Homo sapiens: one gene and its partners. The protein of the gene in region 1 interacts with the protein of each later gene in a biochemical or structural test. Each region holds a gene or a part of one and is shown in the gene's direction. Other genes may lie near its edges. The genes, in order: SKP2, BTRC, SIRT6, MSN, BRAP, KPNA6 and NUDT1.

The links.
Region 2: the proteins of SKP2 (region 1) and BTRC form a complex in vitro, tested with the Homo sapiens proteins (one study listed by BioGRID).
Region 3: the proteins of SKP2 (region 1) and SIRT6 form a complex in vitro, tested with the Homo sapiens proteins (one study listed by BioGRID).
Region 4: the proteins of SKP2 (region 1) and MSN form a complex in vitro, tested with the Homo sapiens proteins (one study listed by BioGRID).
Region 5: the proteins of SKP2 (region 1) and BRAP form a complex in vitro, tested with the Homo sapiens proteins (one study listed by BioGRID).
Region 6: the proteins of SKP2 (region 1) and KPNA6 interact in a test that uses a peptide from one of them, tested with the Homo sapiens proteins (one study listed by BioGRID).
Region 7: of the proteins of SKP2 (region 1) and NUDT1, one has a biochemical effect on the other in vitro, tested with the Homo sapiens proteins (one study listed by BioGRID).

Annotation. Positions count from the first base shown.
Region 1 is NC_000005.10:36,158,553-36,162,450, forward strand, and holds part of SKP2 (S-phase kinase-associated protein 2), read left to right. Parts: intron 1-3,898. UniProt on the Homo sapiens protein: Substrate recognition component of a SCF (SKP1-CUL1-F-box protein) E3 ubiquitin-protein ligase complex which mediates the ubiquitination and subsequent proteasomal degradation of target proteins involved in cell cycle progression, signal transduction and transcription.
Region 2 is NC_000010.11:101,528,363-101,532,680, forward strand, and holds part of BTRC (F-box/WD repeat-containing protein 1A), read left to right. Parts: intron 1-2,874; coding exon 2,875-2,971; intron 2,972-3,932; coding exon 3,933-4,070; intron 4,071-4,318. UniProt on the Homo sapiens protein: Substrate recognition component of a SCF (SKP1-CUL1-F-box protein) E3 ubiquitin-protein ligase complex which mediates the ubiquitination and subsequent proteasomal degradation of target proteins. Recognizes and binds to phosphorylated target proteins.
Region 3 is NC_000019.10:4,173,306-4,177,101, reverse strand, and holds the end of SIRT6 (NAD-dependent protein deacylase sirtuin-6), read left to right. Parts: coding exon 1-23; intron 24-1,164; coding exon 1,165-1,260; intron 1,261-1,341; coding exon 1,342-1,422; intron 1,423-1,950; coding exon 1,951-2,074; intron 2,075-2,155; coding exon 2,156-2,485; 3' UTR 2,486-2,993; downstream 2,994-3,796. UniProt on the Homo sapiens protein: NAD-dependent protein deacetylase, deacylase and mono-ADP-ribosyltransferase that plays an essential role in DNA damage repair, telomere maintenance, metabolic homeostasis, inflammation, tumorigenesis and aging.
Region 4 is NC_000023.11:65,737,154-65,741,471, forward strand, and holds part of MSN (moesin), read left to right. Parts: intron 1-24; coding exon 25-185; intron 186-1,371; coding exon 1,372-1,464; intron 1,465-1,816; coding exon 1,817-2,041; intron 2,042-2,575; coding exon 2,576-2,740; 3' UTR 2,741-4,318. UniProt on the Homo sapiens protein: Ezrin-radixin-moesin (ERM) family protein that connects the actin cytoskeleton to the plasma membrane and thereby regulates the structure and function of specific domains of the cell cortex.
Region 5 is NC_000012.12:111,644,435-111,648,407, reverse strand, and holds part of BRAP (BRCA1-associated protein), read left to right. Parts: intron 1-3,845; coding exon 3,846-3,973. UniProt on the Homo sapiens protein: Negatively regulates MAP kinase activation by limiting the formation of Raf/MEK complexes probably by inactivation of the KSR1 scaffold protein.
Region 6 is NC_000001.11:32,114,556-32,118,873, forward strand, and holds part of KPNA6 (importin subunit alpha-7), read left to right. Parts: intron 1-4,318. UniProt on the Homo sapiens protein: Functions in nuclear protein import as an adapter protein for nuclear receptor KPNB1. Binds specifically and directly to substrates containing either a simple or bipartite NLS motif.
Region 7 is NC_000007.14:2,247,618-2,251,645, forward strand, and holds the end of NUDT1 (oxidized purine nucleoside triphosphate hydrolase), read left to right. Parts: intron 1-1,693; exon of another isoform or gene 1,694-2,075; intron 2,076-2,239; coding exon 2,240-2,385; intron 2,386-3,024; coding exon of another isoform or gene 3,025-3,080; exon of another isoform or gene 3,081-3,118; intron 3,119-3,211; coding exon 3,212-3,384; 3' UTR 3,385-3,528; downstream 3,529-4,028. UniProt on the Homo sapiens protein: Oxidized purine nucleoside triphosphate hydrolase which is a prominent sanitizer of the oxidized nucleotide pool. Catalyzes the hydrolysis of 2-oxo-dATP (2-hydroxy-dATP) into 2-oxo-dAMP.

The DNA of each region.
Region 1 (3,898 bases):
TTGGTGGTGAACCCATTGATAGCATCTTTGTTTTATTTTCTCTCTCCTCCTCCACTCACTCCCTAGCCCTGATTGATTTCTGTTTCCATAGCAAGTCCGGGTTTAATTCTCACCTTTTCAAAATTTGTACTTACAACAGAGGAGAGCATAGAATATTAGAACCCACTAGGATGGAAAGGGCATGATTTGAAATCAGACCTGAGTTTAAATTCCCCCTCTGCCACTTACTGATTGTGTGACCTTGTCTCTTTTATCATAGTTGCATGTTTTCTTGAAGCCCCAGCCCCCATCTCCCAGAGACTACAGCTATACTGATAGAGGACATTCCCTTCTGCTCTGGGTTTTTGTCTTCAGCCTCATCCCCTCCATATGCCAACAGTGCTGTGCACATAGTCGTTAATTGGTTAATAAGGGTTAGCCATTCACACTAATAAAGAATTAGCACATTCACCATTTGAATGAAGAGGGCTAATAAATACATTTGGCAAATATTTATAGAGTCCTGTTATGTGCCAGGCATTGTTAGGTAATGGATGTGCAAATCTGGGCATGGGGCCTGTGGTGGTATCCTGGGTGGGAATGCTTCTTTGAGCAGGTGCCATTTAAGCTGAAATCTGGAGGAGTTGGGAAGGCAAAGATGGAAGTTGCAACACAAAGTCCTCCAGACTTTGGAGTCTCACATGCAGTCTTCATTGGTTAGGTCTACTGACCTCTGCATTCATCACTATGCCAGATTTTCCTCTAGCACTTTAATTACCTGGCTGCTACTGCTCTTTTAATTGGTCCTGATTTCTTATGTCTTCCTAATAGAAAGCACCAAGTTTGTTAATTTATTTCTCCTGCCCTGTACTTCATAGCAAGCTTTTCTAATTTCCTTTCCCCAGCCATAATTTCTGTTGGTGCCCTATCTATAGCCCCTTGAAGCCCCCCATTCCCTTACATGCCAAAGCTTTTGCCTACGTGTAGATGAGATTCCATGCCTGAGGGCTTTCTCTGGGCAGGAATACTGGGGAGTCCCCAAATAGTGACCAACAGCAATTGATGGATTAATACCCCAGCACTCGTGCCCTTGGTTGAGACAGCTCTGGGGTAGTTTCTAGATGGTTTACTGGAGTCCCCAGAAGATTTGAACCCCAATTGCCCATAGGGATAACCTGCCTATTAGCCTACTCCAGGTTGGCTTTCTTCCCTTCCACCTCTGTCTTCTCCACTCTTTCTAGTGCTTCCTGGCATCACTTCCCAAATAAACTACTTGAAGTCAGAGCTTCAGAATCTGCTTCTGGGGGACCCAAACTTAAATAAAGGGCAGATACGGGGTTTTGGTAAGTCATACCATGCAGACCTTGTCCAGTGTCTGCCCATGGGTGAAAATTCAGAGCAGCACTGAAAAGGTCATTGCATGAAGAAAATACCCAGACTTAACTGGGAAAGGAGAGGAATATAGAAAAGAAAGTTTTACTCCCTGCTGCATTATTTAATCTTTTCTTGTACCTCATTTACTCTTCACTGAACAATTTTGCAAGATAAATCTGTCAATTTCCTTTCCTGCAGGTAAAGAAACTGAGGCCAGAAAGATTAAGTAACTTGCCCAAGTTCACAGACTTGGGGCAACACAGCCAGGATTCTGATAGAAACTGTGCTGCTTTCTCAGTCCAGTAGTCCTCAAATGTGTTGAGGAGGCCCAGCGTATGGTGTCAGTATGATTTTTACAGATTATAGTAAAATCTCAACATATTAGATTCAAAATAGCTAAGTATGTTATTGAAGTATAGTTAAGCTTACTCTTCCATAGAGGCCACTTCCTCCAGGAAGGCTTCCTTAACCTCTGCACCATTCCCATGTGCTGCACAGCACCCTGAATCCTGCTGTAGCCCATCAGGATAGTTTATTGAAATTTCCTGTTTAATTGTTTGTCTGTATCTCTCAAACTCAGAGTAGAATAAGGGTCAGGATTGTACCTTACTTATTGTTGTGGCCCAAAACCTAGAACAGACCTCAGTGTATATAGTACATGGTTAATAAATACGTGAGTGGATGACTATACTTATAGCTAAATATAGTTATGCCCAATCAATTACTAGATTCTGATCTAGATATGTAAGAGGCAGCAGAGGTCTGAGAGAGTTGGATTAATGGGAGAAAAACTTGAGAAAAGCCTGTCATTCAACTTTGTTTTCAATTTGGGGAGCAGGGCAAGAGCCTGGTTTGAGAACCTTTGTCCCCTGCCCATGTTGACTTTGGAGGAACTTTGTGGCAGTGATGGAACAGCTGCCACGTCGAGGAGCCTCCTCACAACCTCCAGCTGCCTCCCCAGATCAGCAGGGGTGATCTGCCTTCAGCTTTCTACCCCTAGCTTTCAGGGCCTCAGTCAGTCCTTTAATTTTGTCCCCTGAAGGGCGTGAGGCTAGGGGAACAGGCATTCATTGAACAACTGTGTATCTCCTACTCATTCTTCAAGAGAGGCCACTTCCTCCAGAAAGGCTTCCCTAACCCCTGCGCCATTCCCATAAGCTGCACAGCACCCCGAATCCTACTGTAGCCCATCAGGATAGGTTATTGAAGTTTCCTGTTTGTCTATATCTCTCAAACTCTGAGCAGAATAAGGGTCAGGATTGTGCCTTATTTATCATTGTGTCCTTAAAACCTAGAATAGACCTCAGTGTATAGTACATATTTTATAAATATGGGAGTGGATGAATGTATCAATTTTATGCTAGTTCCTGAAAATACAAAAATTGTTAAAAAAAAAAAAAAAAGCGTTTTTGTTTCTCAAGAGCTCCTGGGGGTCTAGAGAGATGAGTAAGTAAATAATGAAATTATGGTACATAAGTGGCCTGTCCTTGTTGATGTCACGGGAGGCCTTCTGTGGGAACTGGGGCTTCCATTTGATTTTAAATGAATAGTAGTTGGAGGCAAGCACAGGATGTGCAAAAGCATTGAGATACGGCACAGAATGACTCATTCTAAGAATTACAGGTAGCTCCAAATGGCTGGAACACATTTCTAGATAACAAACCTAGGAAAACTAGTTGAGACCTGGCTGAAAGCGTTTAACTTTGTACTAAGCATTGTGGACTTTAGCCTAAATACCTGGGGTGTACCACTGAAGGATTCTAACTGGGGGAAAGACATGCTGGTTTAGAAAGACTGCCCAGGGCAGCAGGTGTTTGTCACACTCCTCGGTGTTTTTCTCCCTTGTGTCCTCAAACCCACTTATACAGGGCCTGGTACAAAGGACATGCTCAGTAAAGACTGGCACCTTTAAATGGGAGTAGGAGGAGAGAATATCACCAGAATTGGTGTAGAAGATCCATCAGAGGTGGAAAGCCTAGGAAGGCAATCATTGAACTCATCTGACTGTTTTTTAGGATTCCTTCATTGTGCATTTATTTCCTTCTTGGCAATTGTTACATTATCCTGAGCTTGTGGGATTATTCTATGTATTCATATGTAAGAGTTTCATACTTGTTGAATAGTTATTTAGAGATTGCTTCTATGAAAGAAAACTGCGCTTCCTGCATCCACCTTTCTGTTCTAAACACAGCAGCCAGAGTGATCCTTTTTGAACTTACGTGAGGGCCTGTCATTCCTGTGCTCAGAATCTTCTAGTGGTGCCTCATAGAATTCAGCGTCAAAGCCAAAGGCTTTATCATGACCTAGGAAGCCTGCATGACCTGGCTGCTCTCTGATTTTTCTACCCACCTACCTCTGCGCTCTACACTGGCCTCCTTGCTATGCCTCAAACACACATGCTGTTCCTTGGATCTAGAACACGTACACCAGATACTCACAGGGCTCACTCCCTCACTTTGTTCAAGCCTTTGCTTAGTGATCGTCATCTCAGTATGGCCTTCCCTGACCACCATGTTCAAACTTAATAACATCTGCTCTGAACTCT
Region 2 (4,318 bases), on another chromosome or scaffold:
ATGTTAGTTACAAAGAAAAAACAATCATTGAGAAGATGGCTTTTGAGCCTTTCTAAAGGGTAGGTGAAGTAATCCAGGATCCAGCACTAATTACCACTTTTTTCCCCTATCTCTTTATCCACAGAAACCCATTCCCGCTCTTTTGAGTATCCTTCAGAGTTCTGACTATATCCCCTTGTCTTTGGGCATGTTTATCCTCTTAATCCCATGATAAACCCATGAAATTCCAAATACTTATACATCCCGTGTCAACTTCCTCCATTATTCCCTCGACTTTCTTGTTGCTGCTTCTGTTTTTACATGTTGACTTTATTCCTGTGTCAGTTTTCTTCCCTTTTTTAAAAAAAAATTTACTCCATCAGTTTCTCATTTTCTTCTTTCAAGTTGTCTTACCAAGCCTAATACGTCAATAAAGTCTTTCTGTGTTATACTTTTCCCCATATGCTAGCTTTGAAAGGTTCTTCCATTTCTACTAACCAAAAATAGTAAGTAAATACAGTTTTCTAATAAAGCTTTTATCTCTAAGTTTTAACTTGGTATTTGATGTTGTATTTTATATCTAGATGGATTTGACAGTCTTCCCCTGGGACATGAACTCTGTAGTTTTCTCTCTTGAATAATACTGAATATGCTGTCTGCTCAGTAATGGTAACTCTTAAAAGTATAATAAAAGACCACTTGGGAAAAGTCAATTTTCTTAATCAGCAGATCACATTTTATGATAACATTCTGAATTTAATATTTAACGTTTATCATGTACTCACATTCTTGTAGGTACTAGGCATTTCACATAGAAGTAGTCCCTGTTTTCAAAGATCTTCCATCATAAAAGGTTTTGACTTAAAACATAAAGACAGAAGCCAGTTTTCAGTACCTAGCCACCTCTTTCTGTAACACTTTGATTTGAAGAAATTCAGATACTTTACCAAGACATGGTAAATGCAGTGAGGTGGAAAACAAGATCAGAAGCTTATGTGAGTTCTCTTTCCTTAGAATGTAGATAGTATCATTGCATAGGAAGAAAGTCTTGGAGTGCTAGAGATTAAAAGAAGACAGGAATCTCAGGAATGGTGGGCATTGAGAAACAATAAAGTAGTTAAGAATGTGGGTGGGCTCAGGAGTCAGACTTAAAATCTTCACATTCAAAATCTATTATTTGCCTGCAAAGTGTTTGTAGAATAATATTGTACAGAGAAATGTACCATTAATCTGGAATTCTTTCATAACGCATCTTGTTTCCCCTTTTGTTTATGCTGGTGTATCATGTTTCATTAATCCCCCTTTTTATAAGTATTATTTTCACTTCTCTATTTCAGATTTTCTTTTCTGTATTAACACAGAAGTTAGAGCCATCTACCTTCCTGATAGGAAATTTTCTCAACTAATTTTCAGGGTATATAACAGGGAGAGGGCAGGGGAGAAACACTCCTGGAGACACCAAACAATTAATTATATTGTAATGGAGCTATAGAGGGAGGAGTGGATGACTGGCCCAGAGAAAACATGATTTCTCTGGTGCCAGGATTACACTCAGAGGCATTTCTGCCTCTCTCCACTTTGCAAGGCACGGTGCCAGTGAGAACAGCAGTTAGTACACCCATAGTGGGGTTTACTAGCTTCCACACCGTGTTTGGTGGGTTCTTAACTTCCGGATGAGGAATTAAATTTTTTACCCAGCAGGAAGTGATTGCCATTTACTGATTTTTTTTTTGTAGCAAAGATCTAGCTTGGGATACGAGTATTCCAGAGATGTGCTGTCATAAGGAAGGAGATACTAACAAATGTTGCTCACTGGAATCAGGGAAGGCAGTTAAGTACATGTGTATGTACACAGCCAGGAACACACCTGTGAAAGTCAGTTTCATGCCTTAGACTTGATAGCAGTGCTCTTAGGCATTTCTTTTTTTTCTTCTTCCCTAGCTGCTGCTGGACACACCTGTGATCCTTTTGTTTTCTGATGAAATGAACTGAATTGCTCCTTTCAAAGCATAGTTGCACTGATTAGCAGCAGCCTGGGTGACTGAGCAGCCACCACACCTTACCCTGTACAAATAAAGACCTAGCAAAAGTGATCTCCATGCCAGAGGCATTGCTGCTGTCTACAATGCTGGGGACCACTGACACAGTAAAAGGGAAAAAAAAAAAAACCTATAGGGCATGTGCTAGTTCAAAGGTAATAGTTACCATTACTAACAAAATTTCCAAAAGATGAGGCCAGTGAATCTAAGCAGTAGTCTTAATAGAGCAATAGATGAATTCTGATTGTACATATTCCATTTGTTTACTGATATTATAATATTCCTAAAGGCTTGGTACTCCGATGTTCTACACTGGAAATAATCATGTTTTACCCAAAAGCAAATCAGTGTTGGTCAGATTCTTTAGAGCCCAGAAGGTTACTCTTTGACATGGGACTCCTGAAATCAGGCTTACCTTTGCTCCTCCGCAGACAGCTATGGAGAGTATATGGAATGGTAACCGTGAAAACACTTTCAAAATATATGAAGTTCCTTATAAATATATAATGTCGGCCGGGTGTGATGGCTCACGCCTGTAATCCCAGCACTTTGGGAGGCCAAGCAGGCGGGTCATTTGAGGCCAGGAGTTCAAGACCAGCCTGACCAACATGGTGAAACCCCATCTCTACTAAAATACAAAAATTAGCCAGCATGGTGGCAGATGACTGTAATCACAGCTACTCAGGAGGCTGAGGCAGGAGAATCACTTGAACCCAGGAAGCGGAGGTTGCAGTGAGCCAACATCACACTGCTGCACTCCAGCCTGGGCAACAGAGCGAGACTCTGTCTCAAAATATATATGTATTTAAATATATAATGTCATGATTTTCACTGGGAAATATTTGTTATTTTTTAGGGGACAGTATTTATTCAAAAACAAACCTCCTGACGGGAATGCTCCTCCCAACTCTTTTTATAGAGCACTTTATCCTAAAATTATACAAGACATTGAGGTAAGAATCTATGTATTTTGGGGTATTGCCCAAGGGCACAGAATTATCAGCATTCTTCAGTCACAGTATGGTTACAGCAAGCCCATTAAGGTTTATTGACATGAGTTGGGAATCAATCTCTTAGCTGGCCATGGTGGCTCACACCTGTAATCCCAGCATTTTTGGAGGCTGAGGTCAGGAGTTTGAGACCAGCCTGGCTAACATGGTGAGACCCCTGTCTCTACTAAAAATACAAAAATTAGCCAGGCATGGTGGCACACACCTGTAATTCCAGCTACTCAGGAGGCTGAGATAGGAGAATCACTTGAACCTGGGAGGCACATGTTGCAGTGAGCCAAGATCGCACCACTGCACTCCCTCCTGAACGACAGAGCGAGACTCCATCAAAAAAAAAGAAAAGGAAAAGAAAATCAATCTCTTTACAGGCGAGTAGGGTAGGTAAAATAAATTGCTAGGCAAAATTTTAAAGCTTTAAAAAATGGTTTACTAATAAGTAGATGAGAGAGTTAAAGAGATTGATCCCTTCATACATAGCAGTGTGACTGGTAAACTTGTACTCATAAGCTCATATTTAAATATCTTCTGAATTGAACCTCCTTAGAAGTTCATCAGTAGCAATCAGTAGCAATGGCCATCACATATGTAAGAGCACTGAGTGTATAACCTCACGTAGTTCGTAGCTTTTCTTCTCTTGATGAGTAGTCTCTTTCCACCAGATTTATTATTTAATTGAACAAATTATAGGCAGGGAAGTTCTAGGAAACAACCTTTAATTACCTTGCAAAAGGAAGAATATTTTATAAATATAGATAGTAGCCTTTTAAAGACATTTTTTAGTTTTCCCTAAGTTGTGTATATCCCATAGAGTAAAGCATTGAGCCATTGATTGTCATTAAAGCCTAAAAAGAGTTTGATTCTAGGTGTTTCCTAACACTGCCTCTTTCCCATTCCTTCTTCTCAGACAATAGAATCTAATTGGAGATGTGGAAGACATAGTTTACAGAGAATTCACTGCCGAAGTGAAACAAGCAAAGGAGTTTACTGTTTACAGTATGATGATCAGAAAATAGTAAGCGGCCTTCGAGACAACACAATCAAGGTGAGGTCTATTCAGTTGTAGAAAGGTAGCAGAGGGAGCAAGAGTGACCACATTCATAGCGCAGTCTAAAGCATAAACTCTAAGCATTATTTCTAGAAAGTAAGTGAAGATTTTAGATTGTTTCCAGTCCCAAAGCCAAAATCATTTCCTTAAAGGACAGACATCAGCTTCCCCACTATACAAACGGGTAGTCCTAGGGTTAAATTCTCTTCTTGAAATGCACTGAATGGGCTGTTACTCTTTTGGCC
Region 3 (3,796 bases), on another chromosome or scaffold:
GAAGAATGTGCCAAGTGTAAGACGTGAGTGCCACCTGGGTGCAGGGGTGGGGGCTCTGCCAGAGGGGGTTGGGGGTCGAATCCGATGTCCCAGAGACCCAGAGGGTATGGGGGGACTGGGGTGTGGCCCTCCTGGGGGGATCTGGGGGCGTGTCTCCCTCTTGGGGGGATATAAGGAGTATGTCTCCCTCCTGGAGGGATTTGGGGGGCATGTCTTCCTCCTGGAGGGATTTGGGGGGGCCGTGCCTCCCTCCTGTGGGGGGTACATCCGTGTCCTGGCACTGCTGTAGCAACCTGCCACAGATGAGCAGCGTAGAACAATAGAAATTTGTGATCTCACAGTTCTGGGGACCAGAAGTCCAAAATCCAGGTGTCTGCAGGGCCATGCCCCTCTGCAACCTGTAGGGGAGGATTTTTCCTGCCTTTTCCTGGCTGCTGGTGGCAGCCAGCCACCCTTGGTGGTCCTGGACCTACAGCCACAGGGGCCTTCTTATCTCTGTGTTTCTCCTTTTTTTTGAGACAGTCCCGCTCTGTCATCCAGGCTGGAGTACAGTGGGGCAATCTCGGCTCACTGCAACCTCCGCCTCCCGGGTTCAGGCAATTATTCTGCCTCAGCCATCCAAGTAGCTGCAACTGCAGGCGCCCGCCACCACACCTGGCTAATATTTGTATTTTTAGTAGAGACGGGGTTTCACCATATTGGCCAGGCTGGTGTCGAACTCCTGACCTTGTGATCTGCCCGCCTCAGCCTCCCAAAGTGCTGGGATGACAGGCGTGAGCCACCACGCCCGGCCCAGTATAACGATTAAAGTCAGGAAAAGTAAAGTGGACATCGCCTTCTCTAATCCCGAATCCAGACTCGGCCTGTCGCCCCCATGCTCCAATTGTTCCTGTTTCTCCTGGTCCGGGATCCCATGCTGGGTCTTGTCTCTCGAGCCCCTTCGTCTGTCTGGGACAGTTTCCTGCTTTGTTTTCTGTGCTCCGGGCACCGAGCAGCATCCCAGCCCGTTATTCATGGAAGGCTACTCGTTCCGTGTCGCTGGGTGCTAGTTCTGGTCACCTGTCCACCCCCCACCTCCCTGGGAGAACGTCACCCTAGAAACAGTGCGAGAGTCACCCATGGGAGCTCACCTGGTCCCATCCTCCCCCTTCCTCCCTGACACAGGCAGTACGTCCGAGACACAGTCGTGGGCACCATGGGCCTGAAGGCCACGGGCCGGCTCTGCACCGTGGCTAAGGCAAGGGGGCTGCGAGCCTGCAGGTGAGCCACCCCCACCCATGCCCTGGGCTCCAGGGGAGGCTGCGAGGCCCCTGAGGACTCTCCTCAGCTTCCTCATTGCAGGGGAGAGCTGAGGGACACCATCCTAGACTGGGAGGACTCCCTGCCCGACCGGGACCTGGCACTCGCCGATGAGGCCAGCAGGTCTGACCCCCCACCCCCAGGGAGCCCATGGTGGGGCGGGGCGGGACGACAGCAGAAACACAGCCAGCTCCAGCATGGGACAGTGGCTGAGGCTCACAGGCAGTGAGGGGAGGCTTCCTGGAGCAGGTGGGCCAGGCCAGGGGCTGCACACACGCACTCACACACACTCGTCACCTCATGGCTCTGGGTGGGTGCTACACAAGGAAACCAAGGCTTCCGCCAGGTGTCTCCTCTATCCAGTGCTGCCCAGCCGGGAGGTGACCGAGCCAGGGTCCCACCCTAGGTGTCCAAGCTCTTACCACACTGTGATACTCCCCGGAAGTGTCTAAGGGCCCGCCCAGATCAATGACCCCGCCAACGGACCGCAGAGGAGGGCAGGGCGGGATCCCAAAGGCTGACTCGGGAGTGGGGCTGGCCTTGACCGCCCCGGTGAGCACAGATGGCCTAGGTGTGAACCGGCCCCCAGGGCTGGCTCGGGATGTTGGCAGGAGCAGGGCATCAGGCTCAGCCCACGCTCCCCGGCCCCAGGAACGCCGACCTGTCCATCACGCTGGGTACATCGCTGCAGATCCGGCCCAGCGGGAACCTGCCGCTGGCTACCAAGCGCCGGGGAGGCCGCCTGGTCATCGTCAACCTGCAGCCCACCAAGCACGTAGGTGTCTGAGCCTACCCCTGCCCAGGGCCACCATGCACCCTCTGTCCCCCACGCCTGACCCGTCCCGCCCCTCGGCAGGACCGCCATGCTGACCTCCGCATCCATGGCTACGTTGACGAGGTCATGACCCGGCTCATGAAGCACCTGGGGCTGGAGATCCCCGCCTGGGACGGCCCCCGTGTGCTGGAGAGGGCGCTGCCACCCCTGCCCCGCCCGCCCACCCCCAAGCTGGAGCCCAAGGAGGAATCTCCCACCCGGATCAACGGCTCTATCCCCGCCGGCCCCAAGCAGGAGCCCTGCGCCCAGCACAACGGCTCAGAGCCCGCCAGCCCCAAACGGGAGCGGCCCACCAGCCCTGCCCCCCACAGACCCCCCAAAAGGGTGAAGGCCAAGGCGGTCCCCAGCTGACCAGGGTGCTTGGGGAGGGTGGGGCTTTTTGTAGAAACTGTGGATTCTTTTTCTCTCGTGGTCTCACTTTGTTACTTGTTTCTGTCCCCGGGAGCCTCAGGGCTCTGAGAGCTGTGCTCCAGGCCAGGGGTTACACCTGCCCTCCGTGGTCCCTCCCTGGGCTCCAGGGGCCTCTGGTGCGGTTCCGGGAAGAAGCCACACCCCAGAGGTGACAGGTGAGCCCCTGCCACACCCCAGCCTCTGACTTGCTGTGTTGTCCAGAGGTGAGGCTGGGCCCTCCCTGGTCTCCAGCTTAAACAGGAGTGAACTCCCTCTGTCCCCAGGGCCTCCCTTCTGGGCCCCCTACAGCCCACCCTACCCCTCCTCCATGGGCCCTGCAGGAGGGGAGACCCACCTTGAAGTGGGGGATCAGTAGAGGCTTGCACTGCCTTTGGGGCTGGAGGGAGACGTGGGTCCACCAGGCTTCTGGAAAAGTCCTCAATGCAATAAAAACAATTTCTTTCTTGCATCTCAGTGTGTTTACTTTATTTTATTGAGCCAGAGTCTCACTCTGTCACCAAGGCTGGAATGCAGTGGCGTGATCTCAGCTCACTGCAGCCTCTGCCTCCTAGGTTCAAGCAATTCTCCTGCCTCAGCCTCCAGAGTAGCTGGGATTATAGGTGTGTGCCACCACACCCAGCTAATTGTTTGCATTTTTTGTAGAGATGGGGGTCTCACTATGTGACTCAGGCTGGTCTCAAACTCCTGGGCTCAAGCAGTCAGGCCACCTTGGCCTCCCAAAGTGCTGGACTTAACGGGCGTGAGCCACTGTGCCCAGTGAGTGTTTAAATTCCCTATTTGTGGCAGGTCCTCGCCCCCCTGGGTCAGGAGTTCGTGGTCCCCTCCTCCCTGGACCAGCTGCTTGGGCTCCGTTGCAATCCCTGCCCCTCAAGCCTGGGGGCCGAGGAACAAGGGCTCACCTCTCCCCCCACCCCGCCTCTGGAGGGATCAGGCCAGTTTTCTGATGATGAAGCCAATAAGGCAGCTGGCATTTTCTGAGCACTCAGTTTGTAGTTATACACTTATGCACATGCTTTTTGTTGTTGTTTAACATTTACCCCCAGGCTATGAGTCCCCACCTGTGCTTTGGGCGCGATTTTGCGATGGCGCCCGGGCAGGCGCGCACAGCCCGCAGTGGGGGCGACCCCACAGACGAGCGCAGGAGCAGCCGGGTTCCACTCTCCCCAGCTGTGACCTTAGGCAGTCCCTCCACTTCCGACGCCTCGGTGTCCTCGCCCGCAAAATGAGCAGGGTGGGCCGCCCAGATCCCCG
Region 4 (4,318 bases), on another chromosome or scaffold:
CTTCTCCCCTCCTTTTCTGCTCAGAACTGGAAGAACAGACCCGTAGGGCTCTGGAACTTGAGCAGGAACGGAAGCGTGCCCAGAGCGAGGCTGAAAAGCTGGCCAAGGAGCGTCAAGAAGCTGAAGAGGCCAAGGAGGCCTTGCTGCAGGCCTCCCGGGACCAGAAAAAGACTCAGGAACAGCTGGTAAAGCTGTAGGGTGGGCTGGGATTATGGGAACTGAACTTTCTTCCTTGTCTGCCTACTTACTTATAGCTACTTTTGCTTACATGCTGGCTTTTTAGAGCAGGCTACCACTCCATGGGCCTCCAGCAAATAACTAGTTCAGAAGCAAGCTGAGAAGTCACTAGTGTGGCCCAGAAATTTTTGCAGTCTTCCCTAACCCTTAGTTTCTGTTCACTTTCTTAACTCTTGGGTATCTGAGCTGATTGACCTGGCAAAGGAAAGGGAAGGAGAAAAGAACAAAAGGGACTCATATTTGAGCTCCTGCTGTATGTTGCTGTGTTGGGAATATTTCCCTTTTCCTTACTTATTTCTTCTTCCCAGTAACCCTATGGGATTAACCTCATATGAGATAATATCCCAGATAAGGAAATTAGAGCTCAGGGAAGAGATTCACCAAAGATCACACAATTGTAGCTAAATAAGGATTAGAACCCACCCATTTCTGCCTCTGTTTGAAAGCTTTGCTCCCTGAAATCACATGCAAAACTATGTGTCTATGCATTTTTGGGGCATTTGGCATCCATACTTTCATCACAGTTTCCAAGGGTTCTGTGACTCAGAAGTTAAGAACCTGTGGTCCAAACTCCTTGACATATACTCTTCCTTTGTACTGTTGGAGGTGGGAATAGAGGGAACCAAGACCTGTCTCTCATGAGGAAGCTGTCATGGGAGATTTACCCAAGGTGTGCATAAGCTTTTTTCCTTGTTCAGATAGCTTTGTGACACTTGAGTGTCTTTCCTGTACTTGTCCTGGGAAGACTCTTAGTCGAATCCTGAGCATTCTAGGATATCAGGAAAGGATCTGCCACTTCAGGAAGTGACCCAATGATGGCCAAAGCTTTACTGAGGCCCCCAGCTGCATACTTGCCAAGAGGGGCAGGGGGAGAGATAATGAGGAAGGGACAGAGATGGCATATTGTTTGTCTTCAAGAGGCCTACAGTCTAGGTGGGGGAGCTCTGACTTAAAAGGAAGTGGTGGTCAGGGAAGATGGGACTGGAATGAAGTAGTCTGGTAAAAGAGTCTCTGAGGCAGCAAGCAAGTGGAGCAGTAGGTCCCTTACTAGTCCCCCAGGGGACTTGGGTTGAAGACACCTGGGTCCTGAGGACCAGAAGGCCCAGCTCTCACAGGCTTCCAATTTATCCGTAGGCCTTGGAAATGGCAGAGCTGACAGCTCGAATCTCCCAGCTGGAGATGGCCCGACAGAAGAAGGAGAGTGAGGCTGTGGAGTGGCAGCAGAAGGTAAGACACAGGGCCTAAAGCAAAGCATTGAAGGAATGGGTGCCATATGCATAGGTAACAGCTCCTTAGATTCCTTATGTTTTGGCTCCCTCCCTCTTTCATACTTCCCACAGCAGGCAGCATGGGAGAAGGCACTCATGGTTTCGTCAAATACTTACTGGAGTTCTCTAATACCTCTAGGAAGTTGGTACAATTGCTCTTGTTTTATGGATGAAGAAACTAAGGATCAGGCAGATGAAGTGCCTTGTCCTACCTGGTGCCTGCCTCTTGCCAGACCGTTCTAGGCATATACAGGATGCCACAGTTTAACTGGTCTCACTGACAGTCTTTCTCTCCTTCTGTCACTGGACAGGCCCAGATGGTACAGGAAGACTTGGAGAAGACCCGTGCTGAGCTGAAGACTGCCATGAGTACACCTCATGTGGCAGAGCCTGCTGAGAATGAGCAGGATGAGCAGGATGAGAATGGGGCAGAGGCTAGTGCTGACCTACGGGCTGATGCTATGGCCAAGGACCGCAGTGAGGAGGAACGTACCACTGAGGCAGAGAAGAATGAGCGTGTGCAGAAGCACCTGAAGGTATACAAGTAGGGCCAAGGGGCAAGGAAACTATATGCATTGATTTAGTAGCCCATGGCATTCCCTAGACCATCATGGGGGATAGGTATAAGATCCTGTCCCAGTGTTGTATGGGAGCCCAAGCCGTTCTTAAGTGACAGCTTTAAGGATAGGCACCTCTCACTTATTAATCAGACCTTGGGCTATCTCTTCCCTTTTTGAGATTTTCTCTCTGCCCCACCTCCCACTCACTCCATTCACCTCTTACATTAAGAAAATATCTAGCTGACAAAATTCCCACCTGAATCTTTTGTATGTTGTTCTACTCTTAAAGGATACCCATTATCAACTGGTCCCCTAAGTTTATTTATTTTTTTTTAATATTCTTGCCCCACTGCAGTTCTAACAGAGTTGGAAATGACTCTCAATATTTATATATAGAGAGAAAGGGTGAGGAAGAAAGAAGGAAACAGAAGAGAAGGGAAGTCTGGTCAAATAACAGGAGGTAAAATGAGAGAAAGCCATTGACCTCTGTGTTCCCATACATCCTCACAGGCCCTCACTTCGGAGCTGGCCAATGCCAGAGATGAGTCCAAGAAGACTGCCAATGACATGATCCATGCTGAGAACATGCGACTGGGCCGAGACAAATACAAGACCCTGCGCCAGATCCGGCAGGGCAACACCAAGCAGCGCATTGACGAATTTGAGTCTATGTAATGGGCACCCAGCCTCTAGGGACCCCTCCTCCCTTTTTCCTTGTCCCCACACTCCTACACCTAACTCACCTAACTCATACTGTGCTGGAGCCACTAACTAGAGCAGCCCTGGAGTCATGCCAAGCATTTAATGTAGCCATGGGACCAAACCTAGCCCCTTAGCCCCCACCCACTTCCCTGGGCAAATGAATGGCTCACTATGGTGCCAATGGAACCTCCTTTCTCTTCTCTGTTCCATTGAATCTGTATGGCTAGAATATCCTACTTCTCCAGCCTAGAGGTACTTTCCACTTGATTTTGCAAATGCCCTTACACTTACTGTTGTCCTATGGGAGTCAAGTGTGGAGTAGGTTGGAAGCTAGCTCCCCTCCTCTCCCCTACCACTGTCTTCTTCAGGGTCCTGAGATTTACACGGTTGGAGTGTTATGCGGTCTAGGGAATGAGACAGGACCTAGGATATCTTCTCCAGGATGTCAACTGACCTAAAATTTGCCCTCCCATCCCGTTTAGAGTTATTTAGGCTTTGTAACGATTGGGGGATAAAAAGATGTTCAGTCATTTTTGTTTCTACCTCCCAGATCGGATCTGTTGCAAACTCAGCCTCAATAAGCCTTGTCGTTGACTTTAGGGACTCAATTTCTCCCCAGGGTGGATGGGGGAAATGGTGCCTTCAAGACCTTCACCAAACATACTAGAAGGGCATTGGCCATTCTATTGTGGCAAGGCTGAGTAGAAGATCCTACCCCAATTCCTTGTAGGAGTATAGGCCGGTCTAAAGTGAGCTCTATGGGCAGATCTACCCCTTACTTATTATTCCAGATCTGCAGTCACTTCGTGGGATCTGCCCCTCCCTGCTTCAATACCCAAATCCTCTCCAGCTATAACAGTAGGGATGAGTACCCAAAAGCTCAGCCAGCCCCATCAGGACTCTTGTGAAAAGAGAGGATATGTTCACACCTAGCGTCAGTATTTTCCCTGCTAGGGGTTTTAGGTCTCTTCCCCTCTCAGAGCTACTTGGGCCATAGCTCCTGCTCCACAGCCATCCCAGCCTTGGCATCTAGAGCTTGATGCCAGTAGGCTCAACTAGGGAGTGAGTGCAAAAAGCTGAGTATGGTGAGAGAAGCCTGTGCCCTGATCCAAGTTTACTCAACCCTCTCAGGTGACCAAAATCCCCTTCTCATCACTCCCCTCCAAAGAGGTGACTGGGCCCTGCCTCTGTTTGACAAACCTCTAACCCAGGTCTTGACACCAGCTGTTCTGTCCCTTGGAGCTGTAAACCAGAGAGCTGCTGGGGATTCTGGCCTAGTCCCTTCCACACCCCCACCCCTTGCTCTCAACCCAGGAGCATCCACCTCCTTCTCTGTCTCATGTGTGCTCTTCTTCTTTCTACAGTATTATGTACTCTACTGATATCTAAATATTGATTTCTGCCTTCCTTGCTAATGCACCATTAGAAGATATTAGTCTTGGGGCAGGATGATTTTGGCCTCATTACTTTACCACCCCCACACCTGGAAAGCATATACTATATTACAAAATGACATTTTGCCAAAATTATTAATATAAGAAGCTTTCAGTA
Region 5 (3,973 bases), on another chromosome or scaffold:
TCTCTTGACCTCATGATCCACCCGCTTTGGCCTCCCAAAGTGCTTGGATTACAGGCGTGAGCCACCGTGCCCAGCCCATCTTTATTTTTAGAGAGAGTCTTGCTCTGTCGCCAGGCTGGAGTGCAGTGGCGCAATAGGCTGGAGTACAGTGGAGCGATCTCAGTTCACTGCAACCTCCGCCTCCCGGATTCAAGTGATTCTCCTGCCTCAGCCTCCCGAGTAGCTAGGACTACAGGAGCACACCACCACACCCAGCTAATTTTTGGATTTTTAGTAGAGACGGGGTTTCACCATGTTGGCCAGGATGGTCTCGATCTCTTGACCTCATGATCCGCCCTCCTCAGCCTCCCAAAGTGCTGGGATTACAGCCTTGAGCCACTGTGTTCGGCCAGCTCACTACATCTTCCACCTCCCTAGGCTCAGGTGATCCTCCCACCTCAGCCTCCCAAGTAACTGGACTACAGCTGTGCACCACCACCCCTGGCTAATTTTTTTTTCTTTTTTTCTTTTTTTTTTTGAGACGGAGTTTCGCTCTTGTTGCCCAGGCTGCAATGGTGTGATCTCGGCTCACTGCAACATCTGCCTCCGGGGTTCAAGCAATTCTCCTGCCTCAGCCTCCCAAGTAGCTGGAATTACAGGCATGCACCACCATGCGTGGCTAATTTTGTATTTTTAGTAGAAACAGGGTTTCTCCATGTTGGTCAGTCTGGTCTCAAACTCCCGACCTCAGGTGATCCGCCTGCTAAAGTGCTGGTTTTACAGGCGTGAGCCACCGTGCTTGGCCTCTGGCTAATTTTTTGCAGAGACTGTTTTACCATTACAGGCATGGGCCACCACACCCTGCAAAAACTGGAAGTTCTTTTTCACCCTCTAGATCCTGCTATCTAGTGTTAACCATTATTAACCAGTACCAGTGAATATTTCTTCTTCTAGATGTTTAGCTCTGCCCACATAAATATCTCACATGCATAATCTTTTCTCTGCAAAAATAGAATCTAGGTATTCTTTTTGATAAAATATGTTTTTGGATTTTTTTTCATACTAGCACATCTAAATCTATCCTGATCTTTGTAACATCTGCATGCTGTTTAATTGTATGGATGTACTATAATGATTTCTGTTGTGGTGGTTGTTGTTGAAATAAGGTCTTGCTGTGTTGCCTAGGCCAGAGTACAGTGGCGTAATCATAGTTCACTGCAACCTCCAGCTACTGGGCTCAAGTGGTCCTCCTAGTCTGAGCTTCCTGAGTAGCTAGGACTACAGGTGTGTGCTACCATGTCTGCCCAATTGAAAATTTTTTTGTAGAGACGGGGTCTTGCCATATTGCCCAGGCTGGTTTTGAACTCTTAGCCTCAAGTGATCCTCCTCCTTGATCCTGTCTTGGCCTCCAAAAATGCTAGGATTATAGGCATGAGCCCTGCACCTGGCCTGCATAATGATTTTGACCAGGTTCCTATTGATTGTGTCAAGTTGTGTCAAATCTCACACTACTATAAGCAATACTGTAATGAGCATCTTCCTCCATGTCTCTTTTTACCTAATCCTGAGTATATCTATTCTATGGTATAAATTCCTAGAAGTAAAATAGCTGTGTCAAAGGGCATGCAAATTTTTTGTTTTTATTTATTTATTTTTGAGACGGAATCTTGCTCTGTCACACAGGCTGGAGTGCAGTGGCACGATCTCGACTCACTGCAGCCTCCGCCTCTAGGGTTCAAGCAGTTCTCCTGCCTCACCCTCCCGAGTAGCTGGGATTACAGGCACACGCTACCACACCCGGCTAATTTTTGTATTTTTAGTAGAAACGGAGCTTCACCATGTTGGCCAGGCTGATGTTGAACTCCTGATCTCGTGATCCACCCTCCTCGGCCTCCCAAAGTGCTGGGATAACAGGCGTGAGCCACCGTGCCTGGCCCAAATTTTTTGTTTTTATAGATATTGCCAAGTTGTCTTCGAAAGAGTTTATACCAGTTCATGCTCCAGTGCTAGTGTGTAAGTGCCTCTTTTCTCATGTCTCAGCTCTTGGGTGTTCTGATGCATAAAAATAGTATCTCAAATAGTGGGGTTTTTTTGTTCGTGGTTTTTGTGTGTGAGTGTTTTTGGTTTTTGTTGTTGTTTTTTTGAGACAGGGTCTTACTCTGTCAGACAGGCTGGAGTGCAGTGATGCAATCACAGCCCACTGCAGGCTCAAATTCCTGGGCTCAAGCAGTCCTCTGCCTCAGCCTCCCAAGTAGCTGGGTCTACAAGTGCACATCACCACACCCAGCTAGTTTTTTAATTTTTCTTTTGTATAGACGGTGTCTCGCTATGTTGACCGGGCTGATTTCAAAGTGACCCTCTCACTTTTGCCTCCCATAGTGCTGGGATTACAGACATGAGCCACTCTGCTGGGTCTCAGATGGTATGGGTTGTTTGTTTGAGACAAGATCTCGTTCTGTCACTCAGGCTGGAGTGCAGTAGCATGAACACAGCTCACTGCAGCCTTGACCTGCTGGGATCAAGCAATCCTCCAGCTTCAGCCTCCTGTAAATCTGGGACCACAGGTGCACGCCACTGCACCTGGCTAAGTTTTTTGATTTTGTGTAGAGACAGGGTCTTACTTTGTTGCCCAGGCTGGTCTCGAACTCATTTCCTGTTTCATTTACTGAAGCGATCCTCTCGCCTCAGCCTCCCAGAGTGCTGGGATTCCAAGCATGAGCCAATGCACCTGGCCTCAAATGGTGGTTTCATTTGCAATTCTTTACTTATGAGTAAGACTGGACATCAAGAATAGGGCACTCCCAAGTCTAAAGCCCTTTGGTTAGAATAAGTGCCCTTTTTTTCCCCTTCAGCAAATGCAATGAAGTCAGAGTACTTGACTCTCCAAGAATGCCACTTTTCCTCATAACTTCCTTATCACAGCTATCATCTCGAAGGCACCTATTTAACCACTGACTGCAAAACAAAGAAGCAGTAGAATTTTTACCGTCAGTCACAGAATAGTTTCTGCTACTGAAAACTTTCTGATGCTTAAAAAAAAGTGTCTTAAAAGTACATTTGTGGGCTGGACGCGGTGGCTCACACCTGTAATCCCAGCACTTTGGGAGGCCAAGGTGGGTGGATCACAAGGTCAGGAGTTCCAGACCAGCCTGGCCAAGATGGTGAAACCCCGTCGCTACTAAAAATGCAAAAATTAGCTGGGCACAGTGGCAGGCACCTGTAATCCCAGCTACTTAGGAGGCTGAGGCAGGAGAATCGCTTGAACCCAAGCGGCAGAGGTTGCAGTGAGCCAAGATCACGCCACTGCATTCCAGCCTGGGCAACAGAGTGAGACTCCATCTCAAAAAATAAATAAATAAATAATACACTTGTGGACTGGCGCAGTGCCTCATGCCTGTAATCCCAGTACTTTGGAAGGCCGAGACAGGTGGATCACCTGAGGTTGGGAGTTCAAGACCAGCCTGGCCAACATGCCGAACCCCAATATCTACTCAAAATACAAAAATTAGCCAGGCATAGTGGCAGGTGCCTGTAATCCCAGCTACTTGGGAGGCTGAGGCAGGAGAATCGCTTGAACCCAGGAGGTGGAGGTTGCAGTGAGCTGAGATCGTGCCATTGCATTCCAGCCTGGGCAACAAGAGCGAAACTCCGTCTCAAAAAAAAATACACTTGTGTTAAGTAGAGCAAAATTCTTGCTTTGCATAGCTGATTGCGATGGCAGAAAACCATTCTCCCTCACGATGGGAGAAAGGGGTCTGTCCTAAAGGGATTCTGAGGTCATGGTTTCTCTGTTCAATCCCAGAGCAGAAAGGGGACTGTGTCAGCAAATGAAAAATGTGCTTTTGTCTTCCTTTGTTTTTCAAAAGGTGCACTCAGCTAAACACAAAAGTGGCCAAACTCACCAACGAGCTCAAAGAGGAGCAGGAAATGAACAAGTGTTTGCGAGCCAACCAAGTCCTCCTGCAGAACAAGCTAAAAGAGGAGGAGAGGGTGC
Region 6 (4,318 bases), on another chromosome or scaffold:
ACGTTTTAAGCTTCTGAGATTTTCAGAATAGTAATTGAGCATTGACTTCAACTTAAAGGCCCCAGCTGCATTAGCCCATAACAAGAGAGTCAGCCTGTCATTTGAAGCTTTGAAGCCAGGCATTGACTTCTCTCTAGCTATGAAAGTCCTAGATGACATCTTCCTCCAATGGAAAGCTGTTTCTTCTACATTGAAAATCTGTTGGCTAGTGTAGCCACTTTCATTAATGATCTTAGCTTGATCTTCTGGATAACTTGCTGTAGCTTCTGCATCAGCACATGCTGCTTCACCTTGCACTTTTTTGAGACAGTGTCTCACTCTGTCACCCAGACTGGAGTGCAGTGGCACGATCTCGCCTCACTGCAGCCTCTGTCTCCCGGGTTCAAGTAATTATGGTGCCTCAGTCTCCTAAGTAGCTGGGATTATAGGTGTGTGCCACCACGCCCAGAACATTTATGTATTTTTATAGAGACAGTGTTTCGCCGTGTTGGCCAGGCTGGTCTCGAACTCCTGACCTCAAGTGATCCGCCCACCTCAGCCTCCCAAAGTGCTGGGATTATAGGCATGAGCCACCACACCCGGCTTCACTTTTTTTTTTGAGACGGAGTTTCTCTCTGTTGCCCAGGCTGGAATGCAGTGGCGCGACCTCAGCTCACTACAAGCTCGGCCTCCCGGGTTCACGCCATTCTCCTGCCTCAGCCTCCCGAGTAGCTGGGACCACAGGCGCCCGCTACCACGCCCGGCTAATTTTTTTTTGTATTTTTAGTAGAGATGGGATTTCACCATGTTAGCCAGGATGGTCTCGATCTCCTGACCTCGTGATCCGCCCATCTCAACCTTCCAAAGTGCTGGGATTACAAGGCGTGAGCCACTGTGCCCAACTTTTTTTTTTAAGATAGGGTTTTTGTCTGTCACCCAGGCTGGGGTGCAGTGGCAAGATAGCACACTGCAACCTCTAATTCCTGGGCTCAAGGGATCCCCCCACGTCAGCCTTCTAAGTAGCTGGGGACTACAGGTGTGTGCCACCACACTCAGCCAATTTTAAATTTTTGTGAGACAGTGTGTCACCATGTTGCCCAGGCTGGTCTTCAAGTCCTGTCCTCAAGTGATCCTTATTCCTCAGCCTCCAAAGCCACTGGGATTACAAGCATGAGTCACTGAGTTTGGCCTCCACATTGATGGCTTCTTTCCTTAAACCCTTTCTTTTTGAGACGGAGTCTCACTGTCGCCCAGGCTGGAGTGCAGTGCCATGATCTCAGCTCACTGCAACCTCTTCCTCCCAGATTCAAGCGATTCTCCTGCCTCAGCCTCCCAGGTAGCCAGGATAACAGGTGCCCGCCACCACATCTGGCTAATTTTTGTATTTTTAGTAGAGATGGGGTTTCACCATGTTGGCCAAGTTGGTCTCGAACTCCTGACCTCAGGTGATCCACCTGCCTCAGCCTCCCAAAGTCTTGGGATTACAGGCATAAGCCACTGCGCTCGGCTCCTTAAACCTTATGAACCAGTCTCGTTAGAGCCTGGCTCTGGATTAGGCTTTGGTTTAAGGCAGTATTGTGGCTGATTTGATCTTCTGTCAAAACCACTAAAAGTTTATCCATATTGGCAATAAGGCTGTTTTTTCTTTTCTTTTCTTTTTTTTTTTTTTGAGACAGAGGCTGGAGTGCAGTGGCCCTATCTTGGCTCACTGCAAGCTCCGCCTCCCGGGTTCATGCCATTCTCCTGCCTCAGCCTCCTGAGTAGCGCCCGGCCGGTTGTTTTTTTTAAACATTTGTGTGTTCACTGGACTAGTACTTTTCATTTCCTTCAAGATCTTTTCCTGGCCAGGTGCAGTGGCTCATGCCTGTAATCCTAGCACTTTGGGAGGCCCAGGCAGGCGGATCACCTGAGGTCAGGAGTTCAAGATCAGCCTGACTAACATGGAGAAACCCTGTCTCTACTAAAAATACAAAATTAGCCGGGTGTGGTGGCACATGCCTGCAATTCTAGCTATTTGGGAGGCTGAGGCAGAAGAATCGCTTGAACCCAGGAGGTGGAGGTTTCGGTGAGCTGAGATCGCACCATTACACTCCAGACTTGGAAACTCCTTCACAACAAAAAAAAAGAACTTTTCCTTTGCATTCACAGCTTTGCTAACTGGCGCAAGAGGCTTAGCTTTCACCATATCTTGGCTTTTTGACATGCCTTCCTCACTAAGCTTAATCATTTCTAGCTTTTGACTTAATGTGGAGACATGCAACTGCCCCTTTCACTTGAACAAATAGAGGCCATTGTAGGGTTATTAATTAGCCTCATTTCAATATTGTTGTATCTCAGGGAATAGGGTGGGAGAGAGACTGTGGAATGGCTTGTTGGTGGAGCAGTCAGATCATACACAGTATTTATCAGTTAAGTTCTCCATCTTATATGACCATGGCTCATGGCACCCCAAAACAGTTGCAATACTAGCATCAAATATCACTGATCACAGATCACCATAACAGATAAAACAAAAAACAAAAGTTTGAAATATTACGAGAATTACCAAAATGTGGCACAAAGTGAACACATGCTGCTGGAAAAATGGCACCAGTAGACTTGCTTAACATAGGATTGCCACAAACCTTCAATTTGTTTTTTTTTGTTTTTTTTTTTTGAGACGGAGTTTCACTCTGTCACCCAGGCTGGAGTGCAGTGGCACGATCTTGGCTCACTGCAACCTCCACCCTCCGGGTTCAAATGATTCTCCTTCGTCAGCCTCCTGAGTAGCTGGGACTACAGGCGCCTGCCACCACGCCCGGCTAACTTTTTGTATTTTTAGTAGAGATGGGGTTTTACCATCTTGGCCAGGCTGGTCTTGAACTCCTGACCTTGTGATCCACCCGCCTCGGCCTCCCAAAGTGCTGGGATTACAGGCGTGAGCCACTGCGCCCGGCCCAATTTGTTTTTTTTTTTTTAAAAAAAACACACATTGGCTGGGTATGCTGGCTGACGCCTATAATCCCAGCACTTTGGGAGGCTAAGGCAGGTGAAACTCTTGAGCTCAGCAGTTTGAGACCAGCCTGGGCAACATAGTGAGACCCTGTCTCAAGACAAAAACAATAACAACAATAAAAAAACACACAGTATCGGTGAATCACAGTAAAATGAGATATGCCTGTACTTTATATATTCATTTAATTCTCAGATTCTCATGTTTTAGTTGAGAAAACCAAAGGATGGAGAGGTTTCAGTAACTTGGGCAAATTCATAGCTAATACATGGAAGAGACGCTTACTCAGTATGATTCTAATCAAAATATGGGCTGTTTGTACATAAGCATTCCTGAAGTAGCTAAAGCAATCTCTTCCCCACCCATCTTTTCCTATAGAAATCTCACCTGTTTTTCTTTTCTTTTTTTTAATTTGATATGGAGTTTCGCTCTTGTTGCCCAGGCTGGAGTGCAGTGGCACAATCTCCGCTCACCGCAACCTCTGCCTCCCAGTTCAAACTATTCTCCTGCCTCAGCCTCCTGAGTAACTGGGATTACAGGCATGCACCACCATGCCCAGCTAATTGTTTGTATTTTTAGTAGAGACGGGGTTTCACCATGTTGGTCAGGCTGGTCTCGAACTCCCAACCTCAGGTGATCCTCCCGCCTCAGCCTCCCAAAGTGCTGAGATTATAGACGTGAGCCACCGTGCCCAGCCATCTCACCTGTTTTTCAAGATATACTTTAAATACTGCCTTCTTCATGAACCTTTCTGAAGTACTTTATGCCTTCCAGTTTGGAAATGAACTCTCCTAAATTCTATAGCACTTTGTTCTTACTTTTTTTTTTTTTAAATGGAGTCTCGCTTTTTCTCCCAGGCTGGGGTGCAGTGGTGTGCGCTTTTCACATCCTTTTTTCTATTACAGTTGTTTTATTCCATGTTATTAGTTTTTTGACCAGTTACTTACTCTACATAGCCTCATTTTCTTATCTTTAAAATAGGTATAGGTTAGGTGCGGTAGCTCACACTTGTATTCCTAGCACTTTGGGAGGCTCAGGAAGGAGGATTGGTTGAGGCAAGGAGTTCCAGACCAGTCTGGGCAACATGGCAAAACCCCTGTCTCTACAAAAAAAAAATTAGTTGGGCGTGGTGGGATGTGCCTGTACTCCCAGCTACATGGGAAGCTGAGACAGAAGGATCGTTTGAACCTAGGAGTTTGAGGTTGCAGTGAGTTATATGATCTCACCATTGTACTCTAGCCTAGGTGACAGAGCAAGACCTTGTCTTTAAAAAATAAAAATGAAATAAAATAGAGATAATAGGATTGTTACAGGAATTAAATGAGGTAATGCCTGTAAAGCATTTTA
Region 7 (4,028 bases), on another chromosome or scaffold:
TCTCACCCTGTTCCCCGTGTTCCGCCTGGGGAACCGAGTGCCATGGACAGAGCAGACACTTGGGCAGAACTGAACAGCGTCATCTTCGCCTGCCTGGCGCTCCCTGCCTGGGAAATGGAGCTTCAGCTCTGTCTCCCGGCGGATTCTTGATGCTTCCTACGCTGCCATGTGCTAGGGAAGATTAACTAAAATCAGTCACAATATCCCACTGGGAGGTGACGCTTTTTAAGACGAGCAACAGCCGGCCGCCAAGAGGCGGGTGAGGCCCCACTGAGCACTTCTATTGCATCTAACTGGGGAGCCATTTATACCCAAGTAGAAGCACACGTTCACTTTGTAGCTCAAGCCCAACTTTAATTAGCCATCTGTATGAATAAATGCTGATTCCAGGTCCGTTTCCTCTCCAGTCCCTGCAGTTTAAGCTGAGGAGGCATCGCTTAAATCAGACCATTTAGACCAGGCATGGTGGCTCACACCTGAAATCCCAGCACTTTGGGAGGCCAAAGCAGAAGGATCGCTTGAGCCCAGGAGTTCAGGACCAGCCTGGGCAACATAGCAAGACCCTGTCTCTACAGAAAAACACACACACAGAAAAATTAGCCGGGCATGGTAAGAGGAGGAGACTGAGGTGCCCAGCGGCTGCAGCCCGTGCATCCCCAGGGTCCCAGCACAGAGTGGGTGTTCAGAAGTGTCTGCTGAGGGACTGAGCAAGAACCCGACTGAGCACAGCAAGCAAACGCTCAGAACGGGAGGTCAGCAGCACCGCTGTGCCCAACACGGGTTTCCACCATAACCCGAAGTTGGAACGTTTTATTCTTCCATACCAAACAGGAGTTGAGAAGGCGGCTGGGTTCCTTGAGGTGTGGAATGTCATGCACTCCTCCTTTCTTGCGTGGAAAGCCCGAGGTATAAAGTGTGTATGATGTTTGCTTTTTTTTTTTTTTTTTTTTTTAAGACAGGGTCTAGCTCGGTTGCCCAGGCTGGAGTGCAGTGGAGTAATCCCAGCTCACTGCAGCCTCCAACTCCTGGGCTCAAGCATTCCTCCCATCTCAGTCTCCTGAGGAGCTGGGACTACAGGCGAGTGCCACCATGCCCAGCTAATTTCTGTCCTTTTTGTAGAAACAGGGTTTTGCCATATTGCCCAAGCTGGTCTCAAACTCCGGAGCTCAAGCAATCAATCCTCCCACCTTGGCCTCCAAAAATGCTGGGATTACAGGCATGAGCCACCCTGCACCCAACCTGTTTGCATTTTTATTTTTTAACTTTAAGCTATTAAGGGTTAATGTTTGCATTTCTTAAGGGAAAAACAGAGGAGAAAGAGCCAAAGGAAAAACACTGAAATGGTAGCATTCCTGGGTGATGAGTTTATGGCGTTTTGTTTCCTGGTTGTCTATAACAAATATGTAATTTTTAAATTAGCAACAGCGTTAGACTACTTCGGGGAAACCTGGCTCTGTGTGCCACGAAGCAGGGAAGGGCTTGTTCCCAGGCGCAGCAGCACTTGGGCATCCCGTGGTGAAGTCAGCCCCTTACACCTCCTCCAGGCACAGCTGTGGGGAGCATGTCCCGAGAAGGCGCAGGAAGAGGCCCAGGCCACGTGTCCCGTGTGGTCAGCCTGGGGACCAGAGTTAAAACCAGAGCTCCTCCTTCAGGAAACAGATCATAGAAGCCTGTGGTTTCATCCTGTGTTCTCAGAGAAGAGGCACCAGGCTGGAAAGACATTTCTTTGGGCAGACAGGCCCAGAGTATAGGGCCCAGGTTCCCAGAGCAAGCGTCCCAGGGCCCCGGCGGTCGTAACTACCGCTGCATGGGCTCTGATGCTCAGCCGCGGAAAAGCAAGTAACCGGGAATGAAGGAAGTGGGGTCAGTCCCAACCCTGCCACGTGCGGGTCTCGAGACGGTGGACAAGTGGCTGGACTCCACTGGGCCTGGGCTGTCACTGGTACACAGAGGGCACTGGGCTAGAACTGCGTTCCTCCCACCAGAGGCTCCACACCATCTCCGGGCCCCTCCCCAGAGCCTCTCAACCAAAATCAGTGTCTTCAAAGTTCAAGTTGATTCTGAAGCTCAGCCAGGTCGGGACCAGATAATGCATTCTAGGGGACATCCTCCTGGGTCTCCCATCCACCCTGGTGGCTCCCTGGGCTGTGTGTAGATGCCCAGCTCCTCCTCCCTGCCATCGTGTGGGCATGGCACCATGCCCTGACGGCCTCCCTCCCCTGCCCACCTCTGCCCGCAGGGAGCTGCAGGAGGAGAGCGGTCTGACAGTGGACGCCCTGCACAAGGTGGGCCAGATCGTGTTTGAGTTCGTGGGCGAGCCTGAGCTCATGGACGTGCATGTCTTCTGCACAGACAGCATCCAGGGGACCCCCGTGGAGAGCGACGGTGAGTCTCACAGGGCCTGCTCCCCCTCCCCACTATGCGGGTCCCATCTCCTGGCTGGGAGAAAGGCCATCCGCCCAAACCATCTCTGAGTGCCAGGGACCGGGCAGCCTGCGTCCCCCTCCACCCCACAGTGCCAGCGTGGGGCCCATGAGCCGTGGTCTCTGCACCGAGGCTCCAGTAGCGTACCTGCCCCTGCTCTGCGCCCACCCTAAAATGAGAAACACGGTAATGAGGATGAAATATAAACGATCGTCAGGTTCCTCACGATCACTCAGTGAACTCCTCAGAGAGTCAGTGTACGTTTGGGCTGGCCAGACGCAGTGGCTCACCCCTGTAATCCCAGCACTGTGGACTGTGGGAGGCCGAGGCAGGAGGATCGTTGAGCCCAGGAGTTCAAGACCAGTCTGGGCAACACAGTGAGACCCCATCTCTACAAAAAAACATGGTTTTGTTGTTGTTGCTGTTGTTGTTTTGAGACGAAGTCTCGCTCTGTCGCCCAGGCTGGAGGGCAATGGCGCAATCTCGGCTCACTGCAAGCTCCACCTCCCAGGTTCACACCATTCTCCTGCCTCAGCCTCCCAAGTAGCTGGGACTACAGGCGCCCGCCACCACGCCCGGCTAATTTTTTTGTATTTTTAGTAGAGACGGGGTTTCACCGTGTTAGCCAGGATGGTCTCGATCTCCTGACCTCGTGATCCTCCCGCCTCGGCCTCCCAAAGTGCTGGGATTACAGGCGTGAGCCACCGCGCCCGGCCAAAAAAAACATGTTTTTTAAGCATGAAGTTTGGGTTGCACCTCAGTGCCTCCTCTTCCCCCATTGGTACAGAAATGCGCCCATGCTGGTTCCAGCTGGATCAGATCCCCTTCAAGGACATGTGGCCCGACGACAGCTACTGGTTTCCACTCCTGCTTCAGAAGAAGAAATTCCACGGGTACTTCAAGTTCCAGGGTCAGGACACCATCCTGGACTACACACTCCGCGAGGTGGACACGGTCTAGCGGGAGCCCAGGGCAGCCCCTGGGCAGGAGACGTGGCTGCTGAACAGCCGCAAACCATCTTCACCTGGGGGCATTGAGTGGCGCAGAGCCGGGTTTCATCTGGAATTAACTGGATGGAAGGGAAAATAAAGCTATCTAGCGGTGGTTTTTTTTTTTTTTTTTTGGAGATGGAGTCTCTCTCTGTTGCCCAGGCTGGAGTGCAATGGCACGATCTCGGCTCACGTCAACCTCCGCCTCCCAGGTTCAAGCGATCCTCCCATCTCAGCCTCCCGAAGAGGTGGGATTACAGGCGCACATTGCCACACCCAACTAATATTTGTCTGTTTAGTAGAGATGGGGTTTCACCATGTTGACCAGGCTGGTCTTGAACTCCTGACCTCAGGTGATCCACCTGCCTCAGCCTCCCAAAGTGCTGGGATTCCAGGCGTGAGCCACTGCACCCGGCCGGTCTCTAACCTTTCAAACGTTCTTCTCCAGACACCAGCACAGCCTGCCAGGTCCCGTCCACAGGAAGCTACCAGATGTGCTGGGCTTCAGCCCGCACTGCTGCACAGAGGTGGGAGAGGATGGAGACTCTGTCCCCGAGGTGGGCAGCTGGCCCAGGGCAGAGACACACATGCTCAGTGCCACAAGCTGGGGATGTG